2 linked regions of the Homo sapiens genome follow. The protein of the gene in region 1 interacts with the protein of each later gene in a pairwise test. Each region holds a gene or a part of one and is shown on either strand. Other genes may lie near its edges. The genes, in order: NUDT21 and CEP126.

Region 1 (6,830 bases):
ATCTCCTGACCTTGTGATCTGCCCGCCTCAGCCTCCCAAAGTGCTGGGATTACAGGCATGAGCCACTGTGCCCGGCCATCTTCCAGTATTTTTAATCTTCCAAATTGCATGAAGTAAAAATTATTGTGATGTTTCAATTTTAATAATCAGATGCGTATGGCCCCAAATCAACAAGAGGCCAAGGGTGCGATAATCACAACAGCAGGTAACTGCGGTTTTTAATTAACCTGTGCAACCTTACCATGGAAAGCAGTTTAGTTTTCAGCTTTCTGAATTATTAAGAGTCATATCTTTCATGTATTTATCCTGGTTAATTCAGTCATGTGTATAAGGTCCAAAGACAGAAAGATCTGGGGAAGGTCAGGATACAACCATCTGACCAATCAGCTCTAGTGTAAAAGAATAAGAGAGAGAAATTCGTTATTTACTCTCTTATCCCAGATAAAATAAAATGGGAAAATGCAAAAAAAAAAATTATTCTTCATCTTTTTAATCTTTCTTTTTTTTTTCCCCCCCCAATTTGAAGCACAGATGTCCCTGAGGTTTACAAAGGATTCATGTACTGAAAGATATACCCCCAAACTGGGGAAACCAATGACCTGTATTTCTATACCTAGACTAGGCTGTGTCTTCCAGAGTAGAAAAACCAAACTTAAAAAAAAAAAAAAAGAGATAGTCTTTTCTGCCCAATTAAACTGTCCACCAAAAAAAAAAAGAACGGATTTAACGCTTTGCCCTACTGCAATGTAGAGCATACTGTAATATAGCAAGTCACCTGAAACAAAAACATGAACTCAAAACTCTATTTTATTTTGAGATGGTATTTTGCTCTTGTGGCCCAGGTTGGAGTGCAATGATGTGATCTTGGCTCACTGCAACCTCCACCTCCTGGGTTCAAGTGATTCTCCTGCCTCAGCCTCCCAAGTAGCTGGGATTACAGGTACATGCCACCATACCCAGAAAATTTTTATATTTTTAGTAGAGACGGGTTTTCACCATGTTGGCCAGGCTGGTCTCGAACTCCTGACCTCAGGCGATCTACCCGCCTTGGCCTCCCAAAGTTCTGCGATTACAGGCATGAGCCACCACACCTGGCCCGAACTCAAGATTTTAAATGGTAATTGTCTCCCAACGTACAACTCTCTTCATCATCATACCACTTACCCACATGTACTTAACCCCTTTGTTTATAACATACTTACTCATCGGCTTAATTTGTTTCTTCACTATCTCTATCACCGTCACATTCACCCTTATTATTACTTCTGGCCTGAGCAACTGGAAAGATCACGTTGCTATTAACTGTGATGGGGAAAACTACAGGTGGAGCAAATTTAGAGAAGACCAAGAATTCAGTTTTAGACTTAAGTGTCAGACACTTACTAGACATCCAAGAGGAGGTAAAGCCATGAGACCCATAGAAACCTGTGTACCTAGGGAAGACATTATCACTCTCTCCATCCTGCAGATGAAGAAACTGAGAAGTCTTTGAGAGTACAGAGCTTGCACTTTGAACACTAGATTTTAAAGTCTTACAGGGCAGGCACTGTCTAAGGCTTCCATATAATTATAGCACTTAACACATAGTTAACACTCAGTAAGCTTGGTTAAATGAAGGCATGCTCTTAAGAATGTCAATGCAAGGACTGTTCAAGGCAAACCCACCCTAAAACCTCAAGTCTAAAGGTATTCAATGACTTCATAGACAGTGAATTTCCAAGCTGGAAGAGTTAATGTGGCAGGGGAATAAATACCTGCTGGAACTTATATAAATCATTATACTTCTCATGGAAGTCCAAGTTCATCAGTTCCTTCTGAAGCCCTTCTAAGAAGTCTTGGCTTTGGATGAAGTTTGGGATCACACAGTGAAGAAAAGGGTCCATGTCCATGACAATGACTTCTGTTGGAAGAAAAACATTATCTATGGCTTTTTTCCTTTTGTATTTTTGACATCCAAGTAACATAGCAGAGCTAATACAAAAGGGGATGGTCATGAATTTTGGGGAACCTAATACTTAAAGTCTAAGATTTGGGGAAAAAATGATAAGCTCTGACCTTTCTTCTTTACCCATTAAATACTACTTTTAAAGATACCATGCTTACAACTCCAGTCCTTGAGATGAGTGATGGGTGATGTCACTAAATCAAGGTTCCTACTCTTTTTTTTATGTGTTTCAATGATTACATATTGAATTGAATGTATTTTAGATTTTTAATTCATTTCCCTCAAACTTTGGGTAGCACATTAAATGAGAGTAGCAATACTGGTCGGCAGTTTCCCTGCTTTTGCTTTTCCCAAGTTACTGTCAGAGGCATTTACTACTTACTGTACTTAAAAAAAAAATCAGTTCAGTTCGGGCATAACCACCTCTAATTCCTTGATTTCTACCCCAACATTTACCCACTGCTTCCGGCTGGCTAGATCACCATCCTGTAATCATCAGCACCACCTACCAGGTGCCAGGCCCATGATCTCATTCAATCTTTTTAACAGCTCTGAGGGAGACATTATCACTCTCCCCATTCTACAGATGAAGAAACTGAGAGTACAGAGCCTGCACTTAAACACTAAGCTATCGTTTTCTATAGGCATCCAGCCTACCCAGGACTCACCTCTTCAAAGCACTTGACAACGGAAAGAAAAATTACGGCAAACTCTAGAAGGGGATGCCTGGCGCATGAAGCAGAGCTCTGAACACCTAAGGTGATATTTAAAGCTGAGGCTGGAATCGTTCAACGTAGGCGCCTTTCCTTGGTCAAAGCGCGTTTATTTTCATACATCATGGAGTCAAACTACAGGCGCGTAGAGACGAGTACACTAGGGAGTCAAGCTGGCAGCTCACGACAAATGCCCTGGCTAGACTCTCCTGGGACAGCTGAGCAATGCCCTTGCAGGAGAAATGACATCAGCCACTCCTGTATTTGTCCACATGTGTATTGGGCCTTACTCAGGGAAACATTTACTGAAGCCTGCAAGCATTAGTGTGTCGCTCCCATTCACCGACTTTCCGAGGTAAATATTATGAACTATCCCATTTTACTTAGGAAGCAACTGAAGTTTAATAAGGTTAATTCCATTGCCTGGCGACGCCCAATCAGGGGAGAGGATTCTAACTCAGTAATCTTTGACTCCAGAATGCAACTATCTCTTGCATACCCTCTGCTTCCCAAAACTCTCCGGCCTCCATTTCTCCCTCTTCTCACGTTTCTAAATTGCAACCGAATTTGGAGTGAAAGGGAGCAGCAGCCGAGGCAGGAGAGTAGGAGGTGGCCAAAGTCCTCTAAGAGCCTCTTCCCTTGCGGCCCCGCTGCCCAAGGCTGGGCGCGAGTCCCAGGGCTTTTTCAGAGATCCCTAGACCTCTGCGTGGCGGCCCCTCCCTGAGAGCACCCGGTTACCGTGACTGAACGGCGTCCTGCGGCTCCAGGCCTCAGCCACCTGCTTTTTCAAGGTTTCTTCCGTAACAGCGTCCGAAAACTCCGCCATCACCTCCTTCTTTCCCTTTTTTCCCACCCGGGCTGGGCCGGGCTCCGCTGGCCGCTTCCCATTCATCTCTTCCCAAGGCACAGAACCACGCCACGCAGATCAAGACGCTACCTTCCTGAGGGTACTGCAACTCCCGGCATGTCCCCTTTATCGTGTTTCCCGGCCCTACCCAATGGGAAGCACCAAAGTAAGAGAAGGCGGAACCTATACCCGGTTTACCAATGGGAGCTCCAGCTATTGCAGCCATCCCACCAGCAATTGGCCCACTGGAGCTCGGTCTGGCAGGCCACCGCCCCTCTACTTCCTGCCGCCAGAGGCTCCGGGTTCACTTCCGGCGTGCCTACGCCTCCTCTTGCGCTGTCCTGTTAATGGCGGGCAGTAGCCGCTGAGGGGATTGCAGATAACCGCTTCCCGCACGGGGAAAGTCTACCCTGCCTGCCACTTTCTGCTCGCCGTCAGCGCCGGAGCTCGCCAGCATGTCTGTGGTACCGCCCAATCGCTCGCAGACCGGCTGGCCCCGGGGGGTCACTCAGTTCGGCAACAAGTACATCCAGCAGACGAAGCCCCTCACCCTGGAGCGCACCATCAACCTGTAAGTGCGGCGCGGCCTTGGCGGGCATTTCTCTCGTGAAAGCTCCTATAGACTCTCCGACGCGCCCCCGGCTTTTCGGCGCGCTTCACGCCTCTGCACCTCCCCGCCTCCAACTCCCGCTGGCGGATGCGCGCCTTCCTCCCTCTCTCAGGCCCCTTTCTCATCCTCCAGCCTCCAGGGTTAGAGTCCTTTTCTGAAAGGAAGGCTTGTTCCCATCCTATGTATTCGGTCATAATGGGGAAAAACGGAGTTTGCTTTTAACTCATCCTTTCCCCACCTCTCCAGAGGTAACCGACTTCAAAATGTGTGTTTTTTTAATCCTTCCAGTGAATTGTTTATGCTTTCGCATCACGTACATGGTATTGCTTTGTGAGTGTTGATGTGATACGAATGGTATAACCTAGTATCATTTTTGCAGATTTCACTCTGACAGTAAGGTTTCGAGATCTAGCTGTAATGCCTAGGTCTAGTTTTCTTCCTTTTAGGTGCCACTTAATACTTCAGTTTTTGAATACAACACATTTTATTCATGTGCTCAGGGCTGTCTGCCCTGCCCCATGCCTTATGCCTTCGCGTCGTCTGATGTCTCAATGCCGGCATCCCAGGCACCACAAGTAGGCCCCTCCTTGGGAGTAAGGATGCTGCTATGGTTGGGCTTTCAGACTGGAGGGAACCAGAATGTTTGTACCAGAAAACCCATTGTGGGCTGTGTTTTATTTTCAACACCTTTCTGTTTCAACACTTCAAACCATTGCATTTCAAGGTCATTCTCAGAAGCAGACTCGCTGTAGCAGGTAATTGGCGTTTGGGGTGTCTTAATCAAGAAATTGTCAGTAATGCTTTTTAAAATCGTTTCTGAGGATTTGTTTTCGAGGCAACGCGGTGCCTCCATTTTATGCCAGGATGGAGGAAAGTGGCCAGTTTATGCCAGTCAGGGTACAAGTGCAAGGATTTGGTGGTATTGATGTTTTCGTAAGGCAGTTTAGGTGTTTCTCTGTTTCATATTAAAATAAACGGACATTGTCTCCCCGTCCCCCAACCAAAAGTGATTTGAAGTTGAAAAGATGGTTAACATTGTTTTATTTTGCAAAACGTGTTGGCTTGGAAATTTAGATAATGGAAATGCTGGGTTTATAAAATCTGGAATTAGTTGATAGTTGTGTGTATAAAAGTTCTCAGGAGTGGCGGCTCACGACTGTACTCCCAGCACCTTGGGAGGCTGAGGTGGGAGGATCACTTGAGGCCAGGAGTTGGAGATCAGTCTGGGCAACATAGGCTGTCTCTACAAAAATTTTTTTAAAAATTAAGAAAAAATCCATCAAATGGTAAAGGCAAATGTTATCCTTTTTAAAAGTGTGAAAGCACAGCTTCTGGATTACTTTCGGTGGTTATTAGAACTAAAACCCACAGTCTTTTCTTGTTTTGTCTTGATTACTGAATTAATTTGCATCCAACCATTTTGTAGAATTGGCAAAATAGTTAGCTTTCAGTAAGATATTTTAATCTTCGCTCTATTAAAATTATGGGTTGATTTACAGTACATTTCCTCTCCTGTGTAAATACAAATATTCAGAAATAATAATTGTGTTGTGAACTTAAGTTCACCTGAGTTAACATTAAGTTGAAAACAAATGCCCTCTCCCCCAGTATATTTTATTTTAGGAAATATTGCATGAATGCCTACTTTGTACCAGGCACTGTGCACAATACTGGATATACAGTGGTGAGGAAGTAAGGTGTAGCCCCTGCTTTATGAAGCTCACAGTATGATGAGAACAATATGTATGTCTGGGCTGGCACTCTGATTTCACAGGTGAAAATTCTGACATTTCATCTTCACATCTCCTTACTGATATATTGGAGCTGGCTCTTGCAACAGAGATGTGTAATGGCTATCCTTAATTCTTTCTAACTCAGGTTGTCAGAATTAAATGTTAATATATGTAAAGCGTTTTAAAAAATTGCTTGGCACGTCGTTCTATGTAGCATATCTGCTGCTGCTATGGATGATGGTTTTAGATTTAGCATTGGATCTACCGGGGATGTTCTTTAAATTTTTAAAGCATCCTGGAATGGTATATTTTAATTATTTTAGAGCTTTTTCATATGCCTAGAACTTGGCTTCTGGAATTAAAGTAATTTTTAAAGTTTTGGCAACCTTGATTTTTTCCCCTTTCAAGAATGGCTGAGTGGGGTAGATACAATAATGTTGACTATTAATGTCAAGGGCTTTTGGTAGAATAGATACCTTGGATGGGCAAATGTGGCCTAAATTCGTACTCAAAGGCTTCTTGCTGTAAGGCTTTAATTAAGGGCTTACAACATATAAGTATGGATTTTTTAACTATCTTTAAAGAAAAATTTGATCCTTATTAGGCAAGATGAAAACTGTCTTTAACAGTTTGAGCCATATTTTAAATTATTGGTAAAGGAAGAGAGTTTTCGATTAGATATGGTGGGTAGAAGATTCAGATGAGGAGAAGGAAACAATAAGGAGACTGAATAGAATAAATGCCAAAGGCTAGTAAATAGGTTTAGAGGACAAAAAGAGAAAGTAGAAGAGTTGCTGTGAAAAGGAAAGGCTGTGGTGCAAGAAAAATCTGAGGATAGTTGACTGAGAGAAATAGAAAATAACTGGAGGGATGTTGATGAAAAACGGTGGCTTAGTTTTAGGAAAAAGAAATTAGCCATTAGCACCCATAATTAAAACTTTCTGATTAGATTAGTAGTCAGTGGAATGCAGGGGGACATTAA
Region 2 (8,623 bases), on another chromosome or scaffold:
TTGAGATGGAGTCTCACTCTGTCACCAGGCTGGAGTACAGTGGTGCAATCTCGGCTCACTGCAACCTCCGCCTCCCAGGTTCAAGCAGTTCTCCTGCCTCACCTCCCGAGTAGCTGGGACTACAGGTGCCCGCCACCACGCCCAGCTAATTTTTGTACTTTTAGTAGAGACGAGGTTTTACCATGTTGGCCAGATGGTCTCCATCTCTTGACCCCATGATCCGCCCGCCTCAGCCTCCCAAAATGCTGGGATTACAGGCATGAGCCACCATGCCTGGCCAACACTTTCTTAAAGAAGACTATGAAATCTAAATACTCAATAACATAATGCTCACAATGTCAGCATTCAATCAAAACTTACTAGACATGTGAAGAATCAGGAATATATGACGCATAACCAGGAGAAGAGTAGTCAATATAATCAGACAGAAATAACAGAGATGATGGAATTAACCAACAAGGAATTTTAACGTATTTTTACAAATATTTTCAAGGAATTAAAGTAAAAATGTACATAAGAAAGACAATTGAAAAAAGAAATAAACAGACCTTCTAGTTCTGAAAAACATACTATCAGAAATGAAAAATTGACTGGATGGACTTAACATTGCAGTCATTGCAGAACAAAAGATTAGTGGACTTGAAAACATAGCAATAGAAATTATCCAAGCTGAAGCTTTGGGAGAAAAAGGCTGGAAAAAAATGAACAGTTTGTTAGTGACCTGTGAGACCATATAAAGCCATCAACACATTTAATTAAAAATAAAATTTAAATAAAATTTCACAAAGTAGGAATGGAAATGTTTAAAGAAACCATCGCTGGAAATGTTTCAAATTTGATGAAAATTATAAATCCACAGACTCAAGAAGCCCAACAAACTCCAAGAAGGATAAGTGTATGCACACACACATACCACAGAAAGGCACCTAAAAATCAGATTAAAGCCAGAGGGAAAAAAGATATGTTACATGCAGGGCAATAAAGATAAGACGGACCGCTAAATGTAACTTATAAGCAAAACTTGAAATTGATCATAATGTTTCATTATTTAGTGGTGGGAAAAAATCTGAAGAAAAAAAAAGTATTGTTTATGAAATCAGAAGTTGCCAAACTTCTTCTGAGGTGATTTGGGAGATGAAGCAATTACAGACCTATGCAAATGGAAATCTTAGAGCCATGGATGTCATACTTATATCTAGAAGGATCTTCTAACGCAAATTTCTGTGTCTCACTAGATGTAACCTCAAAGGATGCCTTCCAGGCCTGATTTCATCATCATTATCAGTTAAAACAACTTATTTCCAAGAACAGGCATTGAAGTAGCTATGCTTTGTTTTGTTCCCTGTTTGGGTTGAGTGATTATCACTTTAAGAAGTATGCCAAAGGATGTGATAAATAGGGACTAAATGCTAAAAATATAAAACTCTCATGAATAATTTTTAAAACTTATTCCACAATACTAAATCAATAAGAACTAACTATATAAATTAAAATATTTTTATTCTGTAATTTATTTACTTTATTTCTTAGTTTACTTACTGGGATAGAAAAAGAAAGTACTTTTGTCTAATACCATAGTATGTAAATTTTTAAAATTTACATATTTTAGATAAATCTAAAATGTATGATAAATCTTAAGGGATATCAATTTTCTTTCCATTCAGCATTTTGACTAGATATACAATTTAATGTCTTCTTAAAATTTATTTCTATATATGTGATGTAGATTAATGCATGCTAGGTATGTGTGAGAAAACAGAAATATTTTTAAACATTTACCATACATTGAAGTAATTTTGAAATATTATTAAAGACTGACAAATTTCATGTAAATTTCAGTGAAATAGTGATGTAAATGTCTATGGAATTTATGGAAATTACTACTATGCTAAACCTCCAAAAGGAGTCATTAAAGTCAATAGTTTTTGAGCCTAAACCCATATGAAAATTACCTGGGGAATTTAAATAATACCAGTATATGGACCCCATCCAAGTATTAAATCAGCAGGACCCAGGTATAGATATTTTACACAGTTCTTTATGTGATTTTAACATGTAGCCAGAGTTAACAGCCTTACTACAGTCCACAAAATTAAGTTTTATAAAAAGATGTAGCCCCTACTAACAGGAAACTCACATTAGGATCACAGAGCTTTTAGGAGCCTCATTCAAGTCCAGTGAATGTTTTAGGAAAAAAATACAATTTATAAATAATTATTTTTCAGAATCTCACTTTCTATTACTAAGCCTTCAAGAAACTTCATACTCTAAATGGAATAGCAATAACAAAAATTTTTTTTAAGTTCTAACTGTGGCTAGAATAAGCAGGTATTACTTTAGGAGTTGAAATCAAAGCAAGCATACTATACTATAAGTCTTTGTTACCTCCCAATTTTTTACCTTGAGGATTGCTGCAGGGATAAGAATTATTTATATACCTATGATGTTTATAGTCATACTACTCTATATGCAAGGAGAATTGGGCTCAGTAACAATGGTATGTTGAATCGTTAATCTTGGCATTTAAAAGTTTATAAGCTATAAAACAATGTTCTTTTTTTTTCCAGAAATTTTGTGATGAAGTTAATCAGATAACCAATTCTGAAACCCTCTCAAGTATAGACAGTCTTGAGGCTACAGAGCATGAAGAAATATATTTAACACTTAATAAGGAGCATTCCACATCCATCCAGCGGAATACCATTTCCCTCAAACCAGCAAATATGCAATCAACTAATCTCAGCTGCTTTGATGAAGATAAACTGGCATTCTCTAAAACTCAACATATAAATAATTGGCTTACAAATTTAGATGCTTCAAATACTCAGAATGTCACAGCTTTCTCAGATATTTTAAGTAAATCTAATGTTCTGCCTTCATGGGAATATTTTAATAGTAAAGAACAAAATCCATCTCCTTTGAATGGAACAGTGGAAAGAGCCACAAATACTGCTAATAATTCAGTACCCTTTGTATCTAGCCCACCCATGTTTGTACTAGATAAAAAATGTGAAAAGACCTCTGAAACTAGCACTATGAGGACAACTGACTCCACTTCTGGAGCATTCAAAAGAGAGAGACCATTAGTTACTGAGAGCCCAACATTTAAATTTAGCAAATCCCAAAGCACTTCAGATTCTCTAACCCAGGAAGTGGCTACATTTCCAGACCAAGAGAAATATTCTGAATTAAATCAAGAAAATGGAACTACTTCAATTCCTACTTCATGTGTACCAGTGGCAACGCCTTTAGTTTTGCCATCTAATATACAGTCAGCTAGACCTTCAGCAAAGAACAGTATACACATAAAAGAAATTGATGCAGTGCAGTGTTCTGATAAGTTAGATGAATTGAAAGATGGTAAAGAAGAAGAGATAAAATATTTTAATTGCAATAAGGAAGAGTTGCCTTTATTTTCAGACAGTTTTCAAGATGCCTATATACCTCACAATCCTGATTCAAAAGATGAAAAACAAAAATTAGCTGAAACATCATCCTTGTCTAATGTAACTTCTAATTATGACTTTGTTGGCCAGCATAAGAAAATGAAATACAACATCCATGAGAGAAATGGTGTGAGATTTCTTAAAAGTATTTTAAAGAAAGAATCTAAATATGAACATGGTTATCTTAAGGCATTAATTATAAATCAGAGCTTTAAGTTTGGAAATCAAAAAGCAGCAGCTATCAGAGATAGTATTGAATTAACAAAGGAAAAAGGTGCAGAAATTCCAAAGACCATTAAAAAACTGAGGTGGTTTGATGAAACTAGCAATATAGAAAACAATGCTGAAAACAGTCATTCACTGAAGAATAAAACAGGAACAACTCAACAGCATTCTCAACAATTCCACATTCAAAGTGGTGCTGGAAGCAACATAATTAGTGTTTCTACTTGTGCTGTAAATTCTGCTGATACAAAGAAGTCCAGGGAGGATTCTATCTCTGAAAATGTTACGACTTTAGGAGGATCTGGAGCAGACCATATGCCTTTGAACTGTTTTATACCTTCAGGTTATAACTTTGCTAAACATGCCTGGCCAGCCTCAAAAAAAGAAGAAAGTAAAATCCCTGTACATGATGATTCTAAAACTAAGCAAGGTAAGCCACAAAGAGGTAGAGCAAAAATAATTAGAAAACCAGGATCTGCAAAAGTCCAATCAGGCTTTATATGTACAAACAGAAAAGGCGCTGTCATTCAACCACAGTCTGCAAGCAAAGTCAACATATTTACACAAGCTCAGGGAAAATTAATTATACCTTGTCCTCCTCCTCAATCTACATCAAATATTAGAAGTGGTAAAAATATACAAGTGTCTCAGTGTCAACCAGTAACTCCTGAAAATCCTCAAAACATTATTACACATAACTCTTTTAATTCAAAACATGTGCTTCCAACAGAACACAGTTTGAATCAGTGGAATCAGGAAAGTAGTTCTCCACTCTCAAATGCTTGTTCTGACCTAGTCACTGTGATACCATCACTGCCATCATATTGTTCTTCAGAGTGCCAAACTTTCGCAAAAATAAATCATTCAAATGGCACTCAAGCAGTTGCCCGGCAAGATGCGACATTATATTGCACCCAAAGAAGTCCTGTTTGTGAAGAAAGTTATCCGTCTGTGACTCTAAGAACTGCTGAAGAAGAATCAGTTCCCTTATGGAAAAGAGGTCCTAATGTCCTGCATCAAAATAAGAGGGCTACAGGTAAGAATAAATTTATAGCTTTTTATAGATAAAATGTACACCTTTGTTAAAGTCATGTGAAATTGTTCCTATTTATGTATGGCCATACATACTACATAAATATTAATATTAAACAATAGCTTTATAGAAATAACTTACCTCCAGGCCAAGCACAGTGGCTTACACCTGTAATCCCAGCACTTTGGGAGGCCCAGGCGGGCGGATCACTTGAGGCCAGGAGTTCAAGACCAGCCTGGCTAACATAGCGAAATCCCATCTCTACTAATAGAAAAGTTAGCCCGGCATGGTGGTGCGTGCCTATAGTCCCAGCTACTCGGGAGGCTAAGGAAGAAGAATTGCTTGAACCTGGGAGGTAGAGGTTGCAGTGAGCCGAGATCATGTCACTGCACTCCAGCCTGATGACAGAGCAAGACTCTGTCTGAAAAAAAAAAAGAAAGAAGTAACTTACCTCCTGTAATATTGTGATTTTTGGCCAGGCACGGTGGCTCATGGCTGTAATCCCAGCACTTTGGGAGGCCAAGGCACGCGGATTTACTTGAAGTTGGAAGTTCGAGACCAGCCTGGCCAACGTGACGAAACCCTGTCTCTACAAAAATACAAAAATTAGCCGGGCATGGTGGCGCGTGCCTGTAATCCCTGCTGCCTGGGAGGAGGCAGGAGAATTGCTTGAACCCAGAGCCCAGGAGGAGGAGGTTTCAGTGAGCCAAGGTGGTGCACCACTGCACTCCAGCCTGGGCAACAGAGCCAGACTCTATCTAAAAAAAAAAAACAACAACAACATTGTGACGTTAGTAGCTGAATCCTTTTAAGAGAATGACCCAACCAGTGCTCAACTGAAATTAGAAACTTTTGCCAGCCTCCATTTTTTTCCATGACTTTTCCTGTTAGTTTAAGAGGAAGGACAAGGAATAGGATCTGATTCTTGTCCCATATTATTCTGTCATTACTATTGTAGTCAAATTTTCCAACAAAGTAAGCACAGTGAAAAATATTGTTTAAATTATTATAAACAAGTGAATACATGTAGTTATATTTATTTTTCTTTAAAACTTTTGTTAAATTGAGTTGCTATAAACTAATATTAATTAGATATACCTAATTCTCCCATTCTCTTTCCCAAAGTGTGGTAGCTCTGCTTTTATCTGCTATGACTATTGGTTTTTGTGAGAGCAAAAAAATGATATCATTGTCTTGAAATATTTTTGAAAATTAATTCTCTATAGAATGCCATTGCCCTTACTAGCTGGTCGACTCTCATAAAACTTCTTTCCTTCTATGAAGGAATAAACTAGAAAGCAATATATTTTCCTGCCAATAGGAAACAGTTGCCTATTGAGAAATAGTTAGGACTGGAGTCTGGAGGCAATCAGAAAAACAACTCTTGTTTTTCCAAAGGTATGAATAAATATTGATATATAATGAGAGTTTAAAATTTAATATTCAAAGTCATCTTCAATTAAACCATGAGTTTTTAAGGCCAAGGGACATTTGTGTAATTCATCACAGTATCCCCAGATCCTAACAGTGCCTGGCACTTAGTAATCACCCAGACTCTACTTGAATTGAATGGATAGAAGCCACATTAGCAGAAGGGAAGCTAAATGCAGACACTATAATCTAAAAATCTTCATTACTTGTCTACAAAAATCTAGATTTTAAAAAATTGTTTCTCTCACTAAAATTATGATTTTTTTATCCAGTCATTTCAGAATGTAACTTTAGCTTTCACAACACTTCAAAAAAATGAAGGTATCGTACAGATTAAATATTCTAAAATAAATAATGATAGTTACCCTTTTTGAGTTTGTAGCTTGTACCAGTCACAGTACTGTTTTATACTTACTGTCTCATTTAAACCTTGTAATAATGCTGAGAAATAAATATTTTTAAGACACTGTTTTGCAAAGAAGTAAGCAGAATTATCCAAGGTCAAGAGCTAGTAAATAGCAGAATTGGTATTTTGATCCAGATCTCTATGGTTCCAAGTCCTGTGCTTTTTCTACTAAAATCATATAGTAAATATAGTGATAAAGCAAATATCATATATCACACTCTGCTAATTAGGAAAAATATTAGGAAACTTATAGTTTCCCAATAGCTTATGTACAAAAGGGTAACATATTAAAATTATCTGATTCTCTGATAAAGGAATGGGATACATTTTATCTGGAGAAACCAATATTTTCCTGACATTTAGTCAAAGGAGGTAGTTCTCTCTGGGACATTCGTATAAGGGACATTGGAAAATGTAATGAATTTTAACATTCTTAAATGTTCTTAAATATTCACACTGTTGTAAATATCTATACCTATTAATACAGCGATTATACTTAGAAAATATAACAGTACTAACAATACTGAATATTTTGTATGTTCAGTCATTTAAGCTTTTTTTTCCAAAACTGTTTAAATATAAAATGCTTCAAGTGAACTCTTTGTTAATACTGGATTACAGTTCAGTGAGCATTTGTGGGATTTTTTTTCCTACTCTCTTATTTGCAGTTCATTTTATTTTTATACCCTTATGCATCCAGAGTTGACGATTGTGGAGAGCATCTTGTTCTCAATTAGCATTTCCAGAACACTCTAGCATAACTCTCTAGGAAAAACTCTTCCAATTAGATCCAAGCCATTCGACTATACCACCTCCTGATGTCTCCAGTTATTTCCCCCCTAAAAGATGACTTTGATATTTGGTTCACAGTCTTCATTTCCATACAGAGTCTTTGCCATCATATTGGATAGTTCAGCTTTTATATGGATGAGCAAACATCCTGATCCCTCTCACTCCTTTTTCATCTCTAATAACTTTCTATACAATTCTGCCTCAAATACCCTTTCCCTTTGTTATATTCTGGACCTCATCAACATTCATAACTCCTCTACTTCTTTTCTTTATTTCAGCTTTTATTTTAGATATAGAGGGTACATGTGGATGTTTGTTACATGGGGATATTGCATGATGCTAAGGTTTGGGGTATGGATCCTATTACCCAGGTAGTAAGCAAACTCACTCACTCCTCTACTTAAGCACATTCTCCTCTCTTTTCCCTACTCTTACTCCTACCATTCTTCTACCCTACTGGGCTTCTTTAGTCCAGTATTTTCTCTACTTTCTCATTCCAATTCATCATCTCTTTCTTTCTTTTTTTTTTTTTTTTTTTTTGAGATGGGGTCTCACTTTGTTGACCAGGCTAGGGCGCAGTGGCGTGATCATGGCTCAGTGCAGCCTGGGACTCCTGGACTCAAGCAATGCTCCCATCTCAACCTTTCAGGCACTACAGGCACACACCACCATGCCCAACTAATTTTTTTATATAGAGACAGGGTCTCCCTGTGTTACCCAGGCTGGTCTTGAACTCCTGGGCTCAAGCCATCTTCCCACTCAGTCTCCCAAAGTGCTAGGATTATAGGCATGAGCCACCGTGCCTGGCCAGGTTCATCATTTCAATAGTTCTTTTACCAATATCCTAAACTCTTTGCCTCTTGGTCTTTTTTGTCACAAGAATCAAACAGCCCTTCCCCGCCCAGGGGGAAAAAATTATTTGCTTTTTCTCTGCCTTCTTCTAAGTAGCAGAGAAAATTCATACCAATGTGCCAGGCATATTGGCTATACTGTAGATTTATGAAACATTTTCTGATGATCAACATTACTGAGTATTCCTACTGTTTATCTCGTAAATTCACTGTCTTTCCTTAGAAATAATTATTTCAAACATCCTCCCCAAATATCTGATTTCCCTACTTCCCTTTCCTCATCAGATACTTTCACTGCTCATTTTTCTCAAACCTACATCAATGGGAATAAATATCCAAAATGGGAGGAAAAGTTGTAGTTAGAATACATTAATAAACTTATATAAAAATTTAAAATATGTAAAACAATATTATGGCTAATGGATACATCTGTGGGTAA

Evidence for each region.
Region 2: the proteins of NUDT21 (region 1) and CEP126 interact in a two-hybrid assay, tested with the Homo sapiens proteins (2 studies listed by BioGRID and IntAct).

What each region holds. Positions count from the first base shown.
Region 1 is NC_000016.10:56,448,333-56,455,162, reverse strand, and holds the start of NUDT21 (cleavage and polyadenylation specificity factor subunit 5), read left to right. Parts: upstream 1-3,830; 5' UTR 3,831-3,960; coding exon 3,961-4,076; intron 4,077-6,830. Other genes in the region: prolyl 3-hydroxylase OGFOD1, read right to left, coding at 1,755-1,900, 3,397-3,550. UniProt on the Homo sapiens protein: Component of the cleavage factor Im (CFIm) complex that functions as an activator of the pre-mRNA 3'-end cleavage and polyadenylation processing required for the maturation of pre-mRNA into functional mRNAs.
Region 2 is NC_000011.10:101,959,174-101,967,796, forward strand, and holds part of CEP126 (centrosomal protein of 126 kDa), read left to right. Parts: intron 1-2,567; coding exon 2,568-4,707; intron 4,708-8,623. UniProt on the Homo sapiens protein: Participates in cytokinesis. Necessary for microtubules and mitotic spindle organization. Involved in primary cilium formation.